Regions from separate parts of the Homo sapiens genome. Here region 2 is linked to region 1. A link means that fine-mapping ties the variant in region 1 to the expression of a gene that starts in the linked region. Tissue or cell type: whole blood. Region 1 holds a variant in brackets; the other region holds the start of a gene. All regions are shown on one strand. Distances are from middle to middle.

Region 1 (10,515 bases):
GAAACCTGTCTTCTAAATGACAATCCCTCACAGCTGTTAGGGAAGACAGCCATTATGTCTTCCCTAAGTCCTTTCATCTCTTACCTTCTCTAAGGCTAAATAAACCTATCCAATTTCTGCCACCTTCCCTCACATGACATGGTATCAGGTTTCCTCACTCTTCTGCTCACACCCACCTGCACCAATTCTAGTTGGTTAATGTTCCTCTTTATTAAAGGGAGCTGGCTAGGGCAGGACACAGGATTCGGTAGGGTCTGGACAGTGCAGAGCAGGATGAGATGTCAAAAATCACTTCCCTTGTCCCCCAGAAGGTAGGGTCTATGAGGGCCTGGACTGTGGCTGATTCAGTCACTGCAGTGTCCCCAGTGCCCCAGCACAGAGGCCGGCACATACAAGCAGCTAGTCAGGAGACATCTGTTGTTTGCAGTTGTTGCTTCAGACACTGAGGTCTACAAATGCAACCCAAGGTTGCCTGATCTTTTCTGGCAGCCACTTCACAGTTGACTCCTATTGAGGTTACTGTTAACAAAAACCTGAGTTTTGCTCACATGTGCTGCTGTTGAAATTTTTCCTCCTCTAGACTTGTGCCATGGATTTTTCTGGACCATTTTAATGTCTAAAATTAGTCACCCTTAAATTTCACCATATGTGGCTGGGCTTGGCAGTTCACATCTGTTATCCTAGCACTTTGAGAGGCCAAGGTGGAAGGATCACTTGAGGCCAGGAGTTCAAGACCAGCCTGGAACATAGTGAGAGCCTGTTTCTACAAAAAGTTTAAAAATATCCAGGTGTGGTGGTTTGCACCTGTAGTCCTAGCTACTGGGGAGGCTGAGGTGGGAGGATTGCCTGAGCCCAGGAGTTCGAGGCTGCAGTGAGCTATGATCATGCCACTGCACTCCAGGCTGGGTGACAAAGCAAGACCTTGTCTCTCTATTAAAAAAAAAAAAAAATCACCATGTGAGATATATGCTTGGAAATGCACAGAATTTCTCTAGACGGATACAGAGGAGGCAGGAAATGGTGGCTGCCTCGAGAGAAGCACACTAGGTAGCTAGGGCACAAGGGTCAGAGAAAGCTCTTTACTTTTTACTATATATCTTTTTGTATTTTTACTTTTGTATTATGTGAGTGTGCTATTTTTTTAAGTGACAAAAAATAATAAACCTACAGAGAAGTCAAGAAGGATTTTTTTTTCTTTTTTCATCTTGATAGAGTCTGCCCATCTCTCCAGTCTGAGCTGTTTTGGGAATCTGAGTCTATTTCAATTTTCCTTTAATCTTTTCTTCTTTCTCACTCCCTACCTCCACCAGGAGTCTTTTTAGACTTTTTTTTCCCCTAAAACTCTCCTGTGAAATGTTAATTCCACAGATATACTGTATATCATTTATGTACTGTACATATATCTGTGCTTTATACATAAAAGGAGTTCTATAAAGTTTACTCCTGCCAGGCGCAGTGGCTAATGCCTGTAATCCCAACACTTTGGGAGGCAGAGCGGGGTGGATCACCTGAGGTCAGGGGTTTGAGACTAGCCTGGCCAACATGGCGAAACCCCAGGTCTACTAAAAATACAAAACTTACCCATGCGTGGTGGCACGCACCTGTAATCCCAGCTACTAGGGAGGCTGAAGCAGGAGAATCACTTGAACCCAGGAGATAGAGGTTGCAGTGAGCCAAGATCATACCACTGCACTCCAGCCTGGCCAACAGAGCGAGACTCTGTCTCAAAAAAAAAAAGAAAAAGAAAAAAAGCTTACTCCTTAGTTAATAAGCATATGACTAAATAAGCATATGACTAAATTTTAAAATTAAGTTAAATGTTAAATTAAAATTTAAAAGTTATTAACTTCTAACTTTATAACTGTATTTGCTGAAAAACATTTTTATGGTTTTTGAGACAGTGTCTCACTATGCTGCCCAGGCTGGTCTTGAACTCCTGGGCTCAAATGACCCTCCTACCTTAGCCTCCAGAGTAGTTGGGATTGCAGGTACATGCCACCACGCCAGATTTTTGCTGAATAACTTTTATGTAACTTACTTAGATAAATAGCAATTTATCAAACTACATGTGCAAATTTGCAAATTATATAACTACATAATGATAACAATGTAATTAAATTTAAAATCCTTCAAACTGTTCTTTTCCGACAAAACACAACTGAAAATATTAAATGAATTTCTTAAAATTTTCAATGATCTTAACTTTTAACTTTTCCTTAATATGAGAAAATAACTTTTAACTTAGTAGCTTAGAGATATTCATTCAGATGTTGTCAATAATTTTGCTTTTTAGCACTTGACATAATTTGATGGGTTGAATATTTTTTGTAGGATTAAATAATAAAATATAATCTATTTTCGTTTAATTCTCCAAGTCCAAGTGAACACAAAAGCACTAAAGATCAAACACAAACAACGTCTGCAAGGCAGCCAATGGCAGCCAATAGGCACACATATTCCCCCGCTGAGGTGGAACAATCGATCAAGAGAAAGCCCTTGGTTAATGAAGTTGTGCAGTATTTGGGATTCCTGCTTTAAAAGGAGAAAGCCCAATCACTTGCCATAGTTTTGTAGCACTGCTGTGGCGTCCATGTTGTGTATTTTTCGTGAACTCAATGTCAGTGCTGCACATGCTATACCCAAGAAAACCCAACCAGAAAAATGAAATACTAAGGAATAATATTTTCTCGGGTGGGGTTAAGCTTTGGAGGGGCACAAACCACTGTATTACCAGATTTTTTTTTTTTTTTTTTTTTGTCCACAGGAACCAATTCTCACCTTGGGATCAATATCACCCCCCTCAACGCCCAACCCATAACGCCCCCCCCAAACATAGTCTATCTTTCGAGCTACTATCTCTTCCAAGCAAACTTTGTAACATGCTTTGAGTATTTTTATACCAGAAACTTGGTCCAGGGAAACCCCATTTCCCCAAGTCCTTAAGGATCCAAAGCCTAGCTTTCGGTAGGTCATTTAATTTCTCTGAACATCAGTTTCCCTATCTGGAAAATAAGATTAATAATGCCTACCTTGTAAGAGTTGTTGTAAAAGTTAAATGTTATGTGTGTAAAGCGCTGAGCCAACATACAGCAAATGTACACGATGTCAAATATTAAGCAAGACACAGATAAAGTGAGATAGGCAGTATGCCAATAATGATCTCGCTCCAGCAAACTGCCATTTTTAGTTCTTTCTAGTGTTTGACTAGAATGAGTAAGTAGGTGAAGGACTTCGGATTATCTCAGATTTTATTTCAAAACTGCAGGAGTGGGAAGTGGAGGACAGACTACTTCAGGTAGTAGAACGACCGGGCTTCCGGTACTTACAAAGGAGTTTCCCTTACAAACGCAGGGGGACGCTCACTGTTTCTCAAAGTATCGTCCTCTGAGACAACACCAGAATCCCTTGAGTCCTGCGTAAGATGTCAGAGTCCTCAGGAGCACCGCCGACTCCAGTGCTCTCTTAACAGTTTGGCACTCCCTGGAGAGGTTTCCTAGCCTGAATGGCAAGTCCATGCCATCTTCCGACCAGTACAGAAGACAAAGGGGCTTTTTAGCCCTCGCCTCTTCCTCCCCAACCCGCAGCCCCTGCGTAAGGGGCAGCCGGGCCTTCGGGAAGCTCCACGCAACCCACAAAGGACCCGGGATCACTGCAGAACCCCCGGAGACCCGGACACGCCTCGGCAGCTCCGAGCCCGGCCTCCCACTCGGGAGAGGCTTTGGCCGGTCCTCACCTGGGCGTCGTCCCTGCCACTCGGCCCATAGTAGCGTCAGGTCGCCGTCAGCCCTCAGGAAGCGCAGCAGCTGCACCAAGAGCAGGAGCAGCGCGCACAGCACCAGCAGCCACAGCAGCAGCTCCCAGTTCATTGCGGCCGCGCACGCCCAGCTCGGGGGGAAGAAGACGGCCCGCACCAGAGTCGCGTCGCTGCCCTGCGGGATCGCAGCGCCACCCCTTCGGCCAGCCCAGAGCCGCACTGCCCCGGCTCCGCCCAGGGAGCAGGCCGGGAGGAGGAGCGGCTCGGGCGCGCCGGGCTCAGCACTCGCGGCCCCACTCGCGGTCCTTGGGCGGCCCGCGCCCTCATGCG[G/C]CACACCCGGCGGGGCCGGCAGATTGCTTGAATTCAAGTGTCCGAGACCAGCCTGGGCAACATGAGGAAACCCTGTGTCTACCAAAAATAAATAAATAAAATTCCAGTATTTTTAAAGAAGCTGATTCAAACATAAGCTACATATTATACTACGTTATTTCCTCTCTGTACAGGGACACTATCAACGGCCAGGAGACAGATAGAATCATTCTTGCTTGGCCCCTCTTCTCCATTCCTATTCAGAAAGAACATCCCCTTTTCAAGCTTCAGTATCTTTTCATGAGGTCGAGAAAGTGCTGAAGAAAGACTGTGGCTATCACTCAAGACCCCACAAGCCAAGGCAATGGTCCCTCCATGGGGACAAGGTCCTTTTACAATTAGAGAAAAAAAGACTGAAGCCATGTGCTGTGTTGGCACCTTACAACCTGATTCTGACCACACACAAATTTACTCTGGTGTCTGTTTGGCAACCAAAGCCTAGGTTGGTACCAAATCCTCCCCTTACCCAAGCCATTATTCACATCCTAATGTAAACAGCAAATAAAAACAGAGAATGTAATGAAAACACCAAGGTCTTGCCTACTCTAATACACAAAAGAGTAAAATACTGTTTTTGATTAATTTCCGTTTGAAATGACCTTCAAAACATTTAATTGCTTCCCACTAAATACCTACATGTATTTGAGGCATCAATAGTAGCATCTTTCTTGTTTTCAAGCATTTGAAAGCAAGAGGGTTTTCCATTCACAAGCCTCAGAGGGACCCAGTTAGAGTGCATAGAAACTAGGCCATGTATGAGAACGACCTGTGGCCAAATGGAGAAAGTTCTGGGCGTTGATGCAGTAGAACTTTCATCCTCTTCATTTCCTAGAGTACTTTGTGTGCTCTGATGTCAAAGGCTCTTCCTTGGCTGAAACTAAATATGACTTTAAAACAGTCATGGAAATAAAAGAAGCAGTGACTTCCCTCCCCAGTGTTGTTTTCTTTTTCTAGTCTTGCCTGCCAAACTTTTGTTTTTCTTTAAATGTTTTGAAGAATGTTACTTGCAGTAATCAAATTTCCTTAAATAGCTCTTCCTTCTCTTTTTAAATCCTATTATAAACCCCCTACCTGCCTCCCCACCCTCATCCTTCTCTAAAAAGCTTTTTGGGGTTATCTGGACTCAGAGTCATCTTTCCCTAATCTCACCTCTTTTCACAATTACTTCTGAACTATATCTGAAATTGTTTTTTAATTATTTTCAGGGTTAATATAGTATTGTTCCAATGGAACTTTAGAATCCTTGAAATAAAGTAGCAAATCTGATGCTTCTTTTGAAGAGTCTGGAATACATAGCTTAGTGTTGACATGAGAAGCAATAAGCCCACGTTGATTGAATTCTCCTTTCCTTGAAATTTAAACCTCCTTGATAGAGAGTAGAAGGATAGTTACCAGAGGCTGAGAAGAGTAGTGGGAGGGTTGGGGGGGACGTGGAGATGGTTAACGGATACAAAAAATAGAAAGAATGAATAAGACCTAGTATTTGATAGTGCAATGGGGTGCCTATAGTCAATAATAATTTAGTTGTATGTTTTAAAACAACCAGAAGAGTATAATTGGATTGTTTGTAACATAAAGGATAAATGCTTGAGGGGGTGGATACCCCATTTACCATGATGTGATTATTACACATTGTATGCCTGTATCAAAGTATCTCATGTACTCCATAAATATATACACCTACTGTGTACCCACAAAAATTAAAAATTAAAATTCAATTTTTTAAAACCTCCTTGAAGTTCGGAAGTTAATGTTAAAATGAGAGTTGCTAGCATTTAATAAATCAATCTTCTCTAAGTATTATTAAAATGCTTTGAATAAAGTCCGAAAGTCTTTTCTATAACTGGTAACCTTCATTTTTAATTCCAGATGTAATAGAATGGTACCCTGCCTTCCCTCCTTTTAGTAATGGTCACTTTTGATGGTCTGGGGTCAGGCCCATTCATGGCAGCTAAGGCCCATTCATGGCAGCTAAGGCCCATTCAGGTCAGCTAAGATGAAGGCAGTTGTGCGTAAGCAATTGCCATCTTCCATAACAAAAGCATTATACAAAAATAACTTTAAAAATCCAGATCCTCCAAGATCGGCAGTCCCTAGGCGGGGGAAAAAAAGAGTGAGTGGAAACTGTGAGTGGAAACAGGGACTGAGGAATCTAGGGAGGGAATATTCTTCCTCAAGAACAATAAGGGGTTTGTGGTTTTTGATTGAGGATGTTTTCACATCCCTTAGATGCTTTTGGAAATGTGTTGGATGAACAGTGGCCATAGTGCCAGCTAGCCAGGGTGTCATCAGAGTGCTAACGATCTGGGCACTATGTAAAGACATACCCAACAAAGAATTGCCCTGCCCCAAAAGCTCACAGCACCCTTACTCAGAAATCCTGCAACCTGGCCACGGTGGAGAGGAGCTCTGCAATCTATTAGCAGCCTCCCTCCACAAGCTCTGGCTTACACCTGCCTGGCTGTACCCCAGCTACAAGCGTTCAGGTCATGGTCTAGTTTTCTGATATTCTTCAGGCAGACAAGGTCTTACCTAGAGTCTTATTTATAAGAAAATATAACTTACTTTCTTACCTTTAGTAATCTCATGGGATCCCTCAATAGGAATATCTCACTGCACTGTTCACCACATGCAGTTCCCCATATCAGTGCATTGATATTTTGTTTAGATTAGCCAATTTCCACAGTATCTTGGGTCTCTTAAACATAAGCAGTTTATAGCTCTCATTCTCTCTCCCTTAAATGCTCTGTTTCAAACTTCCCTTTATATATCTTGTCCATGATTTAGTAGTGGTGGTTGTTATTCTAATCTAGAACTTCAAACACTCATGCACACATGAGTACATGCAAAGCTGGTGAAATTTGAACGAGGTCTGTGGATTTTGCCAATACCAATTCCCTGGTTCTGTTATTGTTCTAAAATTATGTAAAATTTACTAGTGGGGAGAACGGGGTACAGAGTACACGTCTGTTCCATCTTTGCAACTTCCTGTGAATCTATAATCATTTTAAAGTAAAAAGTTAAAAAAATTAGGTTAAATTTCTTAAAATATGCAAATATTTTCTTAAAATTCTAAAACTGATCAATGCTTTTTCCTCTCCTTCTCTTTTTTCTCCCCTCTCCAGCCAGGACCAGCCTTGGAGATAAGCAGAGTGAACAGAAATTTATGGTCTCAGATTTAAGAAAAACAAAATTCTTTCTTGCTTCTTAAATCATACTCCATCCCATTGGCTTGCAAACATGCTGACACTCCTCATAATTTCACTCTTCATAAACCAAAGCATAAGGTCAGAGGAGAACTTGACATATTAGAACACTTAGGCATTGAAAGTGGTTAGTCTAACTAACCCATTGAAGTTTTGGAGAACCTGGGACTCAAATTTTGGAAGATGTGACAGATGATATGTTAACATACATTGCACCGAGGCTGAAGTGGGAGGATTGCTTGAGACTGCCTGGAAGGCAGAAGTTGCAGTGAGCCGAGACTGATGGTGTCACTGCACTCCAGCCTGGGCAACAGAGCAAGACCCTGTCTTAAAAAAACAAAACAAACAAACAAAAGAAACCAAAAAAAAAAAAAAAAAAAAAAAAAAAACCATTGCACCAAGTAACAGTCAACTTTTCAGCAGAGGTGAGTAGAGTTAATCAGTTAAGGCTTTCTGGAATACCAGCCCACCTCAAGGCCTTGTACATACTGTTCTCTCCACATAGAGGGATGGCCAGAAATCCCCCAGATGGATCCAACAATGCTCACCTCCTGTGTGCAAACCACCATGTATTTCCCTCCCAGGTTGTATCAGGGTTGATCACTGTAACCAGCAGAATGCTGCAGAAATGATGAGTGTGTGACTCCCAAGGATAGGTCACAGAAGCTATTGCAGCTTCTACCTCTTGCTCTCTCTTGTTTATACCTTTACTAAAGTATAATTCGAGTACAAGAAACTGCACATATTTAAGGTATACAACTTGATGAGTTTGTCAAATATATACACCTGTGAAACCATCACCACAATCAAGGTAAACATTTCAATCACCCCCAAAAGGGGTGACCCTTTGAAATCCACCCATCCTCCACCCCTTCCCTAGGCAGCCACTGATCTATTCTCTGTCACTGTATGGAAACACCTTACCTGTTTCCTCTGTGGGATGTAAAGTCCCATTTCTGGATCCTTTCAGGTCCCTGTCTAATGTCTATTCTCTTTGCCTTGCCCTTACTTTTGTTCAGATCAACTTTAGCCTTAGCAGGGAATTTGGTTTTGTAATTCCGAACCCTAAGCAGTCTTGGATTGCTGTCTGCTGAGATGGGGCATGAGAGCAGTGAGGAGCGTGATCTCTTTTAACAAAGCCGTATGCTGTTCCCAGCTATCTAAGACCAAGGCTTATCTCTTTCTAGTAGGATCTTGACAGGAGCCACAAGAAGTAACCAAGACAACAAGAGTTAACCTGTCCATATGCTTTCTAATTGCCAGGCCTATTCTAAGTGCTTTATATATATTAAATCCCTTAATCTTCACAATAATCCAGTTAATTAGGTACTATTTTAATTCCCATTTCCCTGATGAGGAAGCTTAATTGTGATTAAGTAACTTGCCCTAGGTCACACAGCTAGGAGACAGGGTCTTTGAACCTAGGTAGTCTAATTTCAGTCTTTGCTCTTGAACCACCATATAATACTGCCTCTCACACCAGAGCAGCCTAATTTTGTTCTGCTGGATTCCCTGAAGCTTCTACCTTAGTATGTACAGGTCTGAATCCCAAAGAAACTACAATAACATCTTAATGAGCTGCTTCATTACCATATCATAAAGACTGCCCACTTCCCACCCAGGGATGGAGGGAGATGGAGAGAGCCTCACTGCCTCCTACTCCACCTTGACACAGTAGTTCACATTTTAGGATATTTCATTTCTAGCACTCTACTTCTGGGTACCAATGTCTCAATCAGTCGGTACTCTCAATCGCAAATGGCAGAGACCCACTAAAATTAGCTTACGAGAAATGTTAAGGAATGTATTTGTGCCCCCATAGGTAAATCCCCTACCCTAAGGATGTGGCCTGCCTCTGCAACCAACCTGAGGTCCAGGTGAAAACCACTAACCTGTGGGCCAGGAGCCCAAGCACAGCACTGAGGCCTGTTACTTGGAGACAGAAGTGCTCAGGCAGAGTCCAGGGTCATTACCTTCATTTGGTAAGAATTTTGATGTTGATTTCTAGTGTCTAGAGACCTCAATATCCAAAATAAACATTAATATATTAATTTTCTAGGGCCGCCATAACAAAATATCACAGACTGGATGGCTTAAACAACAGAAATTTATTTTCTCACAGTGCTGGAGTCTAGAAGTTCAAGGTCAAGGTGCTGACAGGGCTGGTTTCCTCTGAGGTCCCCCTCCTTGACTTGAAGACCACCCCCTCTCCTTGTCTCATACCTCAGAAAAAGAAAGAGAATTCAAAAGTTACAGAAAGGCAAAAATAAGATCAATAGTCAGACAGCCCACTGCAGCACCTCCAGCCTGGTAGTTAAAAATCAACCCCTGACCTAACTGCTTGTATTATCCATAGATTCCAGGCATTGTGTGAAGAAGCATTGTGAAATTTTCTGTTCTGTTCTGTTCTGCTCTGTCTTGATTACCGGTGCATGCAGCCCAAGTCCCATACCCCATGCTTGCTCAATCGATCACAACCCTTTCACGTAGACCACCTTAGAGTTGTAAGCCCTTAAAGGGGGCAGGAATTTCTCTCCCAGGGAGCTCGGCTTTTGAGATGCAAGTCTGCAGAAGCTCCCAGCTGAATAAAGCTCCTTCCTTCTTTAACCCGGTATCTAAGGAGTTTTGTCTGTGGCTCGTCCTGCTATAGCAGATGGTCGTCTTCTTCCTGTCTTCACATAGTCTTTTCTCTGTGTGCATCTGTGTCCTAATCTCCTCTTCTTATAAGGACATCATCAATCATATTGGATCAGGGCCCACTGACATGACCTCGTTTTACCTTAACCACCTCTTTAACAAGCTCATCCCCAAATACAGTCTCATTCTGAGGTACTAGGAGTTAAAACTTCAACATATTAATTTCAGGAGAACACAATTCAGACCATCACAATAAACAAAAAATAAAGCTGAATTTATTGCTTAGGTATATAAGGGAGAGCTATGCTGACCAGGCCCAGTCTCTCTAAGCAGATCAGGGAACTGATCTTAATACAGCTCTGCAGAAGCATGGAGTTTGGTGACTGGCAGAGTAGGTTGATGTCAGCTGAAGAACTGTAGTTACTTGAGTGAGACTTTAGTAGATTGGCACTCAGTGGTGTGTTCATTGAAGCAGTCCATTCCCAGGTGGTTTGCTTTCACAAGCAAGGGGTTTTCGCTGCTGGGTTGGCTTCCAGAATCATGCTTGCA
Region 2 (10,515 bases), 73 kb before region 1:
CCTTCAATAAACCCTATATATCTCATTTGCTGGCTCTGGGTCTCTATTTGGCCTCTTGAACCTGGTGCCATCCATACTGAAGTGAATGGGGTCTGGCATGACAGATGTTTACAGTTTTGTTACCATTAAAATTTGATCTTTCAGTGAAGTTAAAATTTTTACAAAATGTAACATAATTTAAAAAATTAAAGTCTAGCTTTTTAAATATTCCAATTTACTGATTTCCAGTCTACTAATAATTCTACTGTGTTCTTTCTTAAACACCTGTGTTTTTTTAAACAATTATCCAAAATAAGTTTCCAGTAGTTACAATGTTCCAAAATAATATCAACTGGAACACCTCTAAAATAAAGTCTCATCTGTGAAGTTATTGCTGTGGAATAATAGTGAAATTTAAGAGCTATACAAGAAAACTAAAAATTCTTTATCATAACCAAAATTTGAAACTATTCTTTTATCATACACTCCCCATCAGTAATTACTGTAAATTTTTCAGAACTGCAATTTAAAAGAAATATATTGTATCTTAGAGTAAAGCTTGAGACCAACCAATCGCAAAGCTATGATTACATTATATATTGTTTATTTGATGGTTCTATTTATGATTGTTTATGGGATATGAAAGTTTCTATATTAAAGAAAGTTTCAATATGAAACACTGTAATTAACTATTGGGCACGTCCTGTCTTTAATATTCTCATAACTCATAACTTGCCCAACCCAAATCTCACGAACATGCTCAGACACTCTAAAATTTCTACTCATCACATGTCCTTTCACATGATGTTTGATGCATATCATGATCTATGATACAGTGACTTTCAATAAGCCATATAAGTCAATCTTTTTATTTTATAGTCCTTTTCTTCTTCGGTTTTCTTCTTGTCCCATTAAGATATAAACCTTGACATTCTTTTCCAATCTTATTACTTCAACAATCTTTTAAAAAAAATTATTGAATATTCTACATCTTAACTTCTCTCCCAAGGTCAATATGTAATATAGGTCCAATTCTGTATTTCCAACTGGGCATAGGCACCTGAATATCGCATCAGCCCCTTACACACAGGTCTCAAAGTAGATTCATTATCTTTCTTCCCAAAGCTATTATTCCTCCTGTGTTTCTTTAAAGGCACCCGGAACTGTGAGCATGATTTTGCCTTCTCTTTGGCCCATACCTAGTGCTGCAGCTCTGCATTATTTTCAGAGACTTCTGGCCAGTGGTCTCTGGGAACAAGGCAGAGTGAGGGTTTATGGTGTGGGTTTTGCTTTTGTTTTACTTTTTAGCAAGAGAAGTTAACTTGGGTATGAACTGAAAACGGGCATTACCATTACACAATAACACGTATGTCATGATAATGCCTGGCTAAACATCTTCTCTGGCTGAAGCAGCAGTTCCAGATTTTTCACAATTTGTTTCATTTTATGTGAATCAGCAGGGTAGGAAAAAATACACGAATCTTGAAGACATACAGATACGGACTCAACTCCAGATGTCATCACTTATTTTACTTTTCTCAAGCTCAGATTCCTTACATTTGAAATAATAATAAGCTACCTCATAAGGTTAAGATTAAATGAGGTACACAAAGTACTGATTCTATGTATGCTCTAAGTATGTGTTGAATGAATTAAAGAATAAATGTTCCCCTACCTGGAATACCTCTTCTCCCAGCTAACTCTGTTTTTGTTTTTGTTTTGTTTTTTTTTTTTTGAGACAAGATCTCACTCTGTTGTCCAGGCTGGAGTGCAGTGGTGCAATTTCGGCTCACTGCAACAACCTCTTACCTCAGCCTCTGAGTAGCTGGGACCACAGGCGCACACAACCACACCTGGCTAATTTTTTGTATCTTTTGTAGAGACAGGGTTTCACCATGTTGCCTCAAACTCCTAGGCTCAAGCGATCCTCCTACCTCAGCCTCCCAAAGTGCTAGGATTGCAGGCAAGAGCCACCACGCCTGGCCCAGCTGTCCACTCACCCTTTAAAAATGGATTGCAACCATCCTTAATTTCCCCAGAATTATGTGTCCCACTTTGTTTCTGAAGCTCAGCGCATACCTGTTTATCACATACACTGTAATTACTGATGTCCTTGTTGTTCAAGTTATGTCCTTGATGTCCAAGTTATATTTTGGTAAATTCCTTAAGGATCATGTTTTATTTGACTTTATATCTGCAGCAATTAGTGTAGTTCCTGACAAATAGGAACCACTATTCCCTTCACTATTTCAATAAATGTTGAATGAATATTTTATACACAGCTAACCAAAGGGCTTGTACCATATGCCCTACTAATTTTATTCTAAGAAAGCACGATGTTCAAATATATTTGAAAAACAGCAGATATTTCAACAATAAACATGTTAATTCTGCTTGGGTCATATGTAATGCCCATGAGAAGAACAAGCATAAATACAGACTCTCTACATAAAGATAATAGCTCATCCTTACTAAGCACTTAAGCTGTGCCATTTACTCTGCTAAGCAATTTACAATTATTTGATTTAATCCAATGACATAACTCTCTGCGGGTTAAGTTCTATTATTTGCCTTATTTTACAAGATATGGGGAAACTGAGCACTAGAGAAATTACATAACCTCAAGATCTCACAAGTAGTAAGCAGTAGTGCCAGGGTTTCAACCCAGACTTCCTGACTCTGGAGCCTCCACTCTTAATTACATGAAACTCAGACTTCTTGGCGGTAAGTGATGCTTCCGAGATGCTTAATGTGGTACTCTGACCCGCAATGAGTGAGCTTCAATGAGAAAAACTATGGATGGACCAACAGCACGTTTTCCCATATTCTATCAAATCGTGAAGATACCAAACTATGAAAGGGTCTACCTGCAAATTAAGTCCTTGAAGACAAGTATATGTATATCCGGGGTTTTCTTCCACATGCTTTCAACACACTACACTTTTGCTCTGGACACAATATCTTAAAAATAAATAAATAAAGCTTTGGCTTTTAATATGAACACAGTAATTATTTTTCTATTACGACCTGAAAACCTAAATACTTAAATACAAAGTCAGCATTTCCAAGACAGCCAAGAGCCAAGAATTAAAAAAAAAAAAAAATTAAGGCCGCATTTATAGTTTTGAGGAATGGAGATCCAAACAAAACAGTCCACAAGTCATCTTGGACGCTGAAGTGTGCAGAACTGCTAGGGCATCTACCCAATCACATGGGGGAATTGCGGGTACCTTGATACCGACAAGTTAGCTTCAAAGTTCCCTTACCCGAGCCTCTAAATCAGCTGAGACCAATCATTGTTAACGCTCTCCGGGGCCGTCTTGAGGACTCCCAGTTGGCAATCTGGAACGTGTCCAGAACTTGGTGGGGCGGGGGGGGGATCATATTTCGTGGAGAATGGGGGAGGTGAGCCCTGGGTATAGGGATAACTTTTTAACTAGCGTTAATTGGGGTCTTTGCGGCCAGGCTGTAAAGATTCCCGCCACACTAATATGAATCAGCCATGGCCTTTTAATTGGAACGCCGGAACTCTGCCTTGTTTTATTAATATCTTAATAACACGTTTCTATAATGGACATGTTGGTTCCTTGTATTTTAAAACGCAGCCACAAACTGAGGCGATAGCGATCACGTTATGCAGTCCCCAATCGTCCAAGCCGAATAGGCTGCATGAAGTATCACTCAAAAACATTCATTACCGTCGGTGTGTTGAGTGGTAACGCCAGTGTGCGAATTCATTAATGGAAATCACGGGACCCCGAGCGGTTGGAGATCTGCCACACCCCTCTGCCTGCGTTAAGACAGCCTGACCCGACCTCTGGTAAATTAATGCGCAAAATGGCGGTTGCACGTCTGTTTCCCCACCCCGGCGCACAATCCTGAGGAAGGACGTCACGTCACCAGGGCAACGACGCTCTTGCGTAAAGGCCCGGCCCAAGGGAACGTTCAGGGCGTCTCGGCTTTCCCCGCTGCTGCTTCTGCTAGGCCCAGTGCGAGACCAGAGCACGAGCGACTCCCGTCGTCCCCGGCCAGGCAGATGTTGGCCTAGTCCTGGCGCGAACGAAGCGCGCTATTTCCCTGCTTCCTCTAGGCCAAGCCTGCTTTACGGCAGGGCCCGCCTCGGGAGCGAGCACAGACCGGGGCAGCGAGGCCAGCCAGGCGCCGACGAGGTCCCCGAACGCGCACGCGCTCCGTTCAGCTCCGGGTGGCGGCCGCCGGAGTAGACGTTAGCCATGGAAACCGAGAGCTGGCCCGGGCGGGGCCGCGGTGAGCTCGTTATTCGGCCGCCGCAGCTTTTCTGCCTCCGCATTCGGGCACTAACCAACCTCCCGGCGGGAGCGCCCAGCCCGAGTTTACCTGCAAAAATGCGGTCCCTGGGATGCCTTCGCGTCTTCTCTTCCCTCGGGTGACTTGAGGTACGTTCGTTGTCCGACGTCCACCTCGGGACTTCTTCGGCATCTTAATGTCCAAGCCTGTGCGGAGAGCCAAGTTGTTCTAGGGGCTTTCATTGCCACAAGAAACATATTTTTCGTTTTTCGTTGCAAAACCTTTAAGTGCAATTATTGCGCTTAATGAACTCAGTCATTAGAGATAGTAATTCAGTGTGATTTTAACTTTCCTTTGAAAGACTACTTTAGCCTGTTGAATTGTAGCATTTTGTTTCTAAGAGACTCGTACGAAATGGAATATGGCACACCCACCCGGAGCTGTGTCCGTTAGGTAGAACTGTACTCTCGCAATATCTCCAACTAAACCTCTTTTGTCCGAATTGTTCAACTCATGGCCCCCTGAACGTGAAGCGCTCCTTCCCCACTGATCTCGACCTCTGTCCCCACAACCTCTTGTCTCTCCAGGACCAGAATTTACTCCAGTGAATCGGAAGTTGTTTTCCATGCCGCTGAATTGGTTATCTGCTCTGTATCCATCATTTTTCACTTACTCATTTTTTACTATTTTTAGGTGTTTGTTTTCTTCATTAAATCATTCCTGCAGTTAGGGCAAAGACTGCCCTTCATGTTATTTGGTATCCACCGCCACTCACGCCAAATCCCCAGACCTTTAGCATAGCATCCAGTTCAGATGTTGCCTTTTCACGAATTTAACTGTTTGTAGCATCTGTTGGCTGCTCCTAAATTTCCTACTTAAAGAGCTGCCTTCTAATTATTAACTGCTGTGGAAAATACCAATCAGGGAAGCTTTTTCTTTTTTAAGAGCTTTATTGAGATGTAATTTACATTCAATACAATTCACCCATTTATAGAATTGTGCAACCCTTACCACAGTCAAGTTTGGAACATTTTCATCACCCCAAAAAGAAACCTTTTACCCTCAGCAGTCACCACCTCCCTCCCCCCATTATCCTTACCCCACCAGCCATAAGCAATTACTAATCTGTTTTCTGTCCCCATAAATTTGCTTATTTTGGACATTTCACATAGACGGGAAAATACAATATGTGGCCTTTTGTAACGGGCTTTCACTTAGTGTGTTTTCAAGGTTCAGCCATGTTGTAGAATGTATGAGTACTTCATTCCTTTTTATAGTCTAATTTCATTGTGTGGATATATCACATTTATCCATTCATTGATGGACATTTGGGTTGTTTTCATTTTTTGGCTGTTAGTAATATTTCTTCTATGAATCTTTTGTGTACAGATTTTTGTGTAGACATATATGTTTTTATCTCTGTTGGGTGTATACCTGAGAGTAGAATTACTGGGTTATATGGTAACTCTATGTTTAGCCTTTTGAGGAACTGCTAGACTGTTTCCCAAAGGAGCTGTATCATTTTACATAACCACCAGATATGTTTGAGGGTTCTGATTTCTCCACAGTCTCATGAATACTTATTATTGTCTGCCATTTTTATTTTAGCCAGTCAAGGAGGTTTGAAATGGTACCTCATTATGGTTTCAGTTTGTGTTTTTCTAATGAGTAATGATGTTGAGTATCATTTTATATTTTCTGTGCTTATTAACCATTTGTATATCATCTTTGGAGAAATGTCTGTTCATATCCTTTGCTCATTTTTTAAAGATTGGATTATTTGATTTCTCATTATTGAATTGTAAGAGTTCTTTATATAGTCTAGCTATAAGTCATATATATATATGATTTGCACAAATTTTCTTCCATTCTATAGGTTGTTCTCACTTTCATGATGGTGAGAACCTTGTTTTTTAAACAGTTTCTCACTTGTCTTGTGAAAGGGTACTGGATACCAACCCCCTCATGCTGGCTTAGCCATCAAAAGCGTCCCATTTTTACACTTTGTAGATTCCTCTTGGACCCACTTTTCTCCAAAGAACCCTATTCCCCCAAGTTATCCTTCCAGTTCTCTAGCATCAAAACAAAATTCGCTTTCATTTGGCAGTTGTTAGTCCAAACTGCACCATTTTGTAAGTCCCCCAGCATTTTGCAGACCTTGGTCAAAGTGACACATTCCAGGCGAGTTTGGGCTGTGAGAAACATCCTGCCTAACCACCTGACCACAACACACAAGAACATCCTTATCATACCCTGCTAAGCAAAGGCCCAACTGAAGGAACGTCCCTATCATACCCTGCAACTGGAACAAAGGGCCAAACCACCTGATCATAGGAACATCTTAATATCCTGCCGGGCAGCAAACCAGACAGCCCAGACCCCTCCTGCCCATACCTATAAGTCCCCAGCCTGTGAACGGCAGTGGGCTCTGGCATTAAGCTGCACCCCCCACCTCTGCAGGTTTTTGCAATATACTTGTGTTGCTGTAGAGCCCCCCCCCACCCCCATCTTTCTTTAACTCCCACCTTCCCTTTAAAAAAAACCTAACAGCAATAGCATGGTATGATTCAAAAACTCATTTTGCCACTAACTGACATTGTATCTTGGTTAAGTCACTTAATATCACTGGTTCTCAGGTTTTTTTGTAAAATAAATTAATTTATTTCTAGTAATTCATGTGAGTAGCAGACTTCATTCACCTGATACTTGATTTTAAAAGAAAAGTTTTTCAACCCAGGGAATTTATAGTGGGTGTCAGTCGAGAAAAATGATGGGACAAGTCTCAATCATTTTAGGAGATTTATTTGCCAAAGTTAAGGACGTGCCCGGGAGGCAAGTCTATGTCTTTCTTCGAAGATGATTTTGAGGTCTCCAAATTTAAAGGGGAAAGGGCAGGATGTTGAGAAGTACACAATTGTCATGTAAGAGGTGGGTAGGGGCAAATAGTTATTTATGCCTTTGGCTCAGTGAATCTGCATTTTTTACATAAGATGACATAAAAGGGGCAGAGGAAAATATTAGGGGAATCTGCATTTTACATAAGATAACAGACAAAATGGGGTAGGGGAACAATCAGATTTGCATTTATGTCTGGTGGGCCAGGGGTAACTGCACCTGTAAGCTGTCAATTGACATTGCCAGGATGAAATTTTAGCTCACTGGGAATTTCCCTGTGGGCAAAATATAGGGGAGGTGTGTAGCTTTTCATCTTGTAGCCATCCTATTTAGAAACCAAAAGGGGGGAGACAGGTTTGCATGACCCAGTTCCCAGCTTGACTTCTTCCCTTTGGCTAAATGAGTTTGGGGTCCCAAAATTTAATTTCCTTTCACATTTCCCTTCTTTTTTCTGTAAAATCTTTTGGAGAAAGCATTTTAAAAGGAAGACGAGTTCCTGGCCTCAGGTTGGTTTTTCCTCCCTTTTTTGAGCTGCTTTCTTATTGCTAGGATGGTTTATTCCTAGAAGTTCAGGTCCCCAGTCTCTAGGAAGGCTCATTTCTAAGAGGTCATGTCCCATGAAGGTTAAAAAAAAAAAATAGGAAGAGGAAAGAAGTAAAAAAGGAAAGGAAAAAAAAAGAAAAAATATATAGGGACCTAGGCCAGATTTATAGCAACAAAAGGAAATCACACCTGGAAGCTGGGTCAGGCTATATTACTGCCTTCTCAATTAGAGCAATTCTCTAGGGAATCATTACCCTAGCCCTTTCAGTTCATTGACATATTTGCAGGCACATAACCATAACAACACTGTAAGCAGAAACAGGACACAACACAAACTATTATTCCTAATATAAGCAATAAGCTTCTGTCACCAAGTTTCCCAGGATCCAAACCCACCACTCAACTGATTGATTAACGAAGGTTTTGGGTGTGACAGATATCTGGGTTTTCATATCAGTCATAAGTCAGATTATGTTCTTCAATTCATCTGGAATATAAACACAACATTCCATTTTTATGATGGTGCAGGTCCTCCCTTGTGCTGCCGTGAGTCTATGTAAAGCCATACGGTTTTGCAGCACAGCTTTCCTCATAAGCATGACTTCCTTGTTTAGCAAGGAAATACTCATGCAGCTATCATTCAGGACCTTTTGGGAGTAATTCACTAAAGCCTCTATATGCCATATAACATCTTCAGTACCTATCTGTGGTACAAAGATTGAAGCTAAGTGGTCATACCATTAGAATACCAAATGTGTCCAACAAGATTGTAAATGAAAAAGGTTTGCTGGTTTTGGCAGGTCTGAATTACTCGTCCTTGTGCCCAGGCATAACATAGGGAACATTGTCCTAACCACTCTGGAGGTAACCACGGCCATAAGTTAGTGCCACATAGCCAATATGTCCCATTTGGAGCTAGCCAATAAATAACTGATCATTGGCACCCAATGGGTGGCAAGCCATTCAGTGTCTTGTAATATGATAGTGTGGTCACAGCGTTCTCCAGGTATCCACCCCATATCTCTCGTACTGTTTGGACATAGGTCCTTGGTGTGATTTCTTTGCTCCCAACACAAAGCATTTTGGCTGAGTTGGCCAAATGAAGGGGTGAGCCAGATAAATCAATACCAATTTAAAAGGCCTGTGTAACAAATAATTATTCTTGCTGTACTGTATCCAAATAATTAAGCCAAGTATAGTAAAGCAAACCAGTCCTACCATGACTTGTCTTTTAATAAGTGGGAAACTGGAGAGAGAAAATTATGTTTCAAAAACTGTAGCACACCTGTTGTTAAATTCTAGTCTTGCCTCATGTTTTCCAATTTTTAGTATTTTCTACAGTTTAAATTCTGATTTTTCTGGCTACAAGTTTCTAAAATAAGTTGTGCTTCCTTAAAGTCCTATGAACTGAAAACTAGATGTTTTATCAGGCGCTGCCTCTAAACCCCCCAACCATCACAGAAGGAAATCTCTTCACTGCTGGCATTGACAACTAATAACTGAGGGTGCCCGGAATCCTTCACCCCATGTCTAGTGAGTCTACGGAACCAGGGTAATTGAGACAATATCTGTTACAGGAATCAACTCCTGGATACATCACACTTGAGTCAAAGCCTGGAAAGCTGAGGAAGCAACCCCTGAGAGCCCAAAGGAACGTCCTAAATATAATGGAAATTATTTACTACGCCTTGTGGGAATTGCTTTACTCTACTATTTGCAGTAGGACTATATACTATAGCACCTTCAGGGTGGAATATCTGACAGGGAATCTCAATTGCTGTAGCATTTTGCTTAATTATTATCCTCATAGCAGGAATAACTGTTACTAACAAAAGATAATATGTGGGCCTTTCCAAACATGTGCCTCTGCCTCTCATTAGGTAGGGAATGTTGTTTCTATCTCAACCAATCAGGCCTAGTAAGAGACTGCTGAAAAACTTAAAGGTCTAAAAAGCTAAGGGAATACCAAAACAACCAGACAGATTCTTGGTTTGGGAGCAGAATCATAGCATGGGTCACCCCATTCCTGGGCCCTCTCCTAATAATATGCCTAGGACTAATGTTCTTACCCTGCCTAATTAACCTTTTTCAAAGATTTTTAGCTGACAGACTCATGACCATTTCACACACAACTACCCAAAAACATCTACAGTGTTATTTCTGCAGTCAATCCAAGACCCAAAAACTGTCTGTCCCCTTGTCAGCAGGAAGTAGCCAGAAAGAACACACTGCCCCTCGTCATTTTTATAACTACAGGGTCTGGATTGACAGAGCAGGAGCATCACCCTCTTCGACTTCGACGAGGACCATCATTTTAAGTTTCACCTTGATCAAAACCCACCAAAATCCAAAGGGCATCAGCCTTATGGTTAAGGTCAGCATGAACATAAATCACACAACATCTCTGACCAGAAACATTCGAAACCCCTCCCGGACCAGAGACATGCCAGCCCCGAGATAACCTTCCCCCTGGCTGGAGAGATGTCAGCCCCAAGATAACCTCCCTTCTGACCAGAGACATTCCAACCCTACCATAAGCTTCTCCCCCATGCAGAAACATTCCAAACCTGTAATAAGTTCTGTCACCAATAAATACTGTAAGTCTGTAAGAGAGAGCTTTCCTGACTGAAATCAGCCAGAAGCCTCTCTCAGGTTTATTCTCCAAAACAAACCTGTCTTTGACTGTTGAGCCACTTTGTATTTCTTTCCTCTTTAACTTACACTGTGACCTTACAAAACACTCTTATTCAAAAACCCTCCAAAAGTCTTGAATTTGAGTGAATACCTTTTTATAGATCCAAAGAGATGTTAACGTGCTTGTTCCTTTTCAGT

What was found. PIP is the estimated chance that this variant, and not a neighbour inherited with it, causes the effect.
Region 2: it holds the start of PCNX4, and the variant in region 1 is fine-mapped to the expression of PCNX4 in whole blood (TOPMed, PIP above 0.99).

The regions. Positions count from the first base shown.
Region 1 is chr14:60,161,444-60,171,958 of GRCh38, forward strand. It overlaps DHRS7 (dehydrogenase/reductase 7), which reads right to left and starts at 3,955. Exons shown (of 7, transcript NM_016029.4): 1 at 3,734-3,955. The coding sequence starts at 3,866. RefSeq lists enhancers at 3,419-3,478, 3,669-3,718 and a silencer at 3,919-4,188. The variant G/C (reference allele first, on the strand shown) is at 4,085.
Region 2 is chr14:60,088,026-60,098,540 of GRCh38, forward strand. It overlaps PCNX4 (pecanex 4), which reads left to right and starts at 3,898. Exons shown (of 11, transcript NM_001330177.2): 1 at 3,898-4,394. It overlaps PCNX4-DT (PCNX4 divergent transcript), which reads right to left and starts at 3,721. Exons shown (of 5, transcript XR_943918.4): 1 at 3,678-3,721. RefSeq lists enhancers at 3,719-3,848, 3,939-4,128, 4,092-4,725, 6,306-6,600, 6,383-6,967 and a silencer at 6,306-6,600.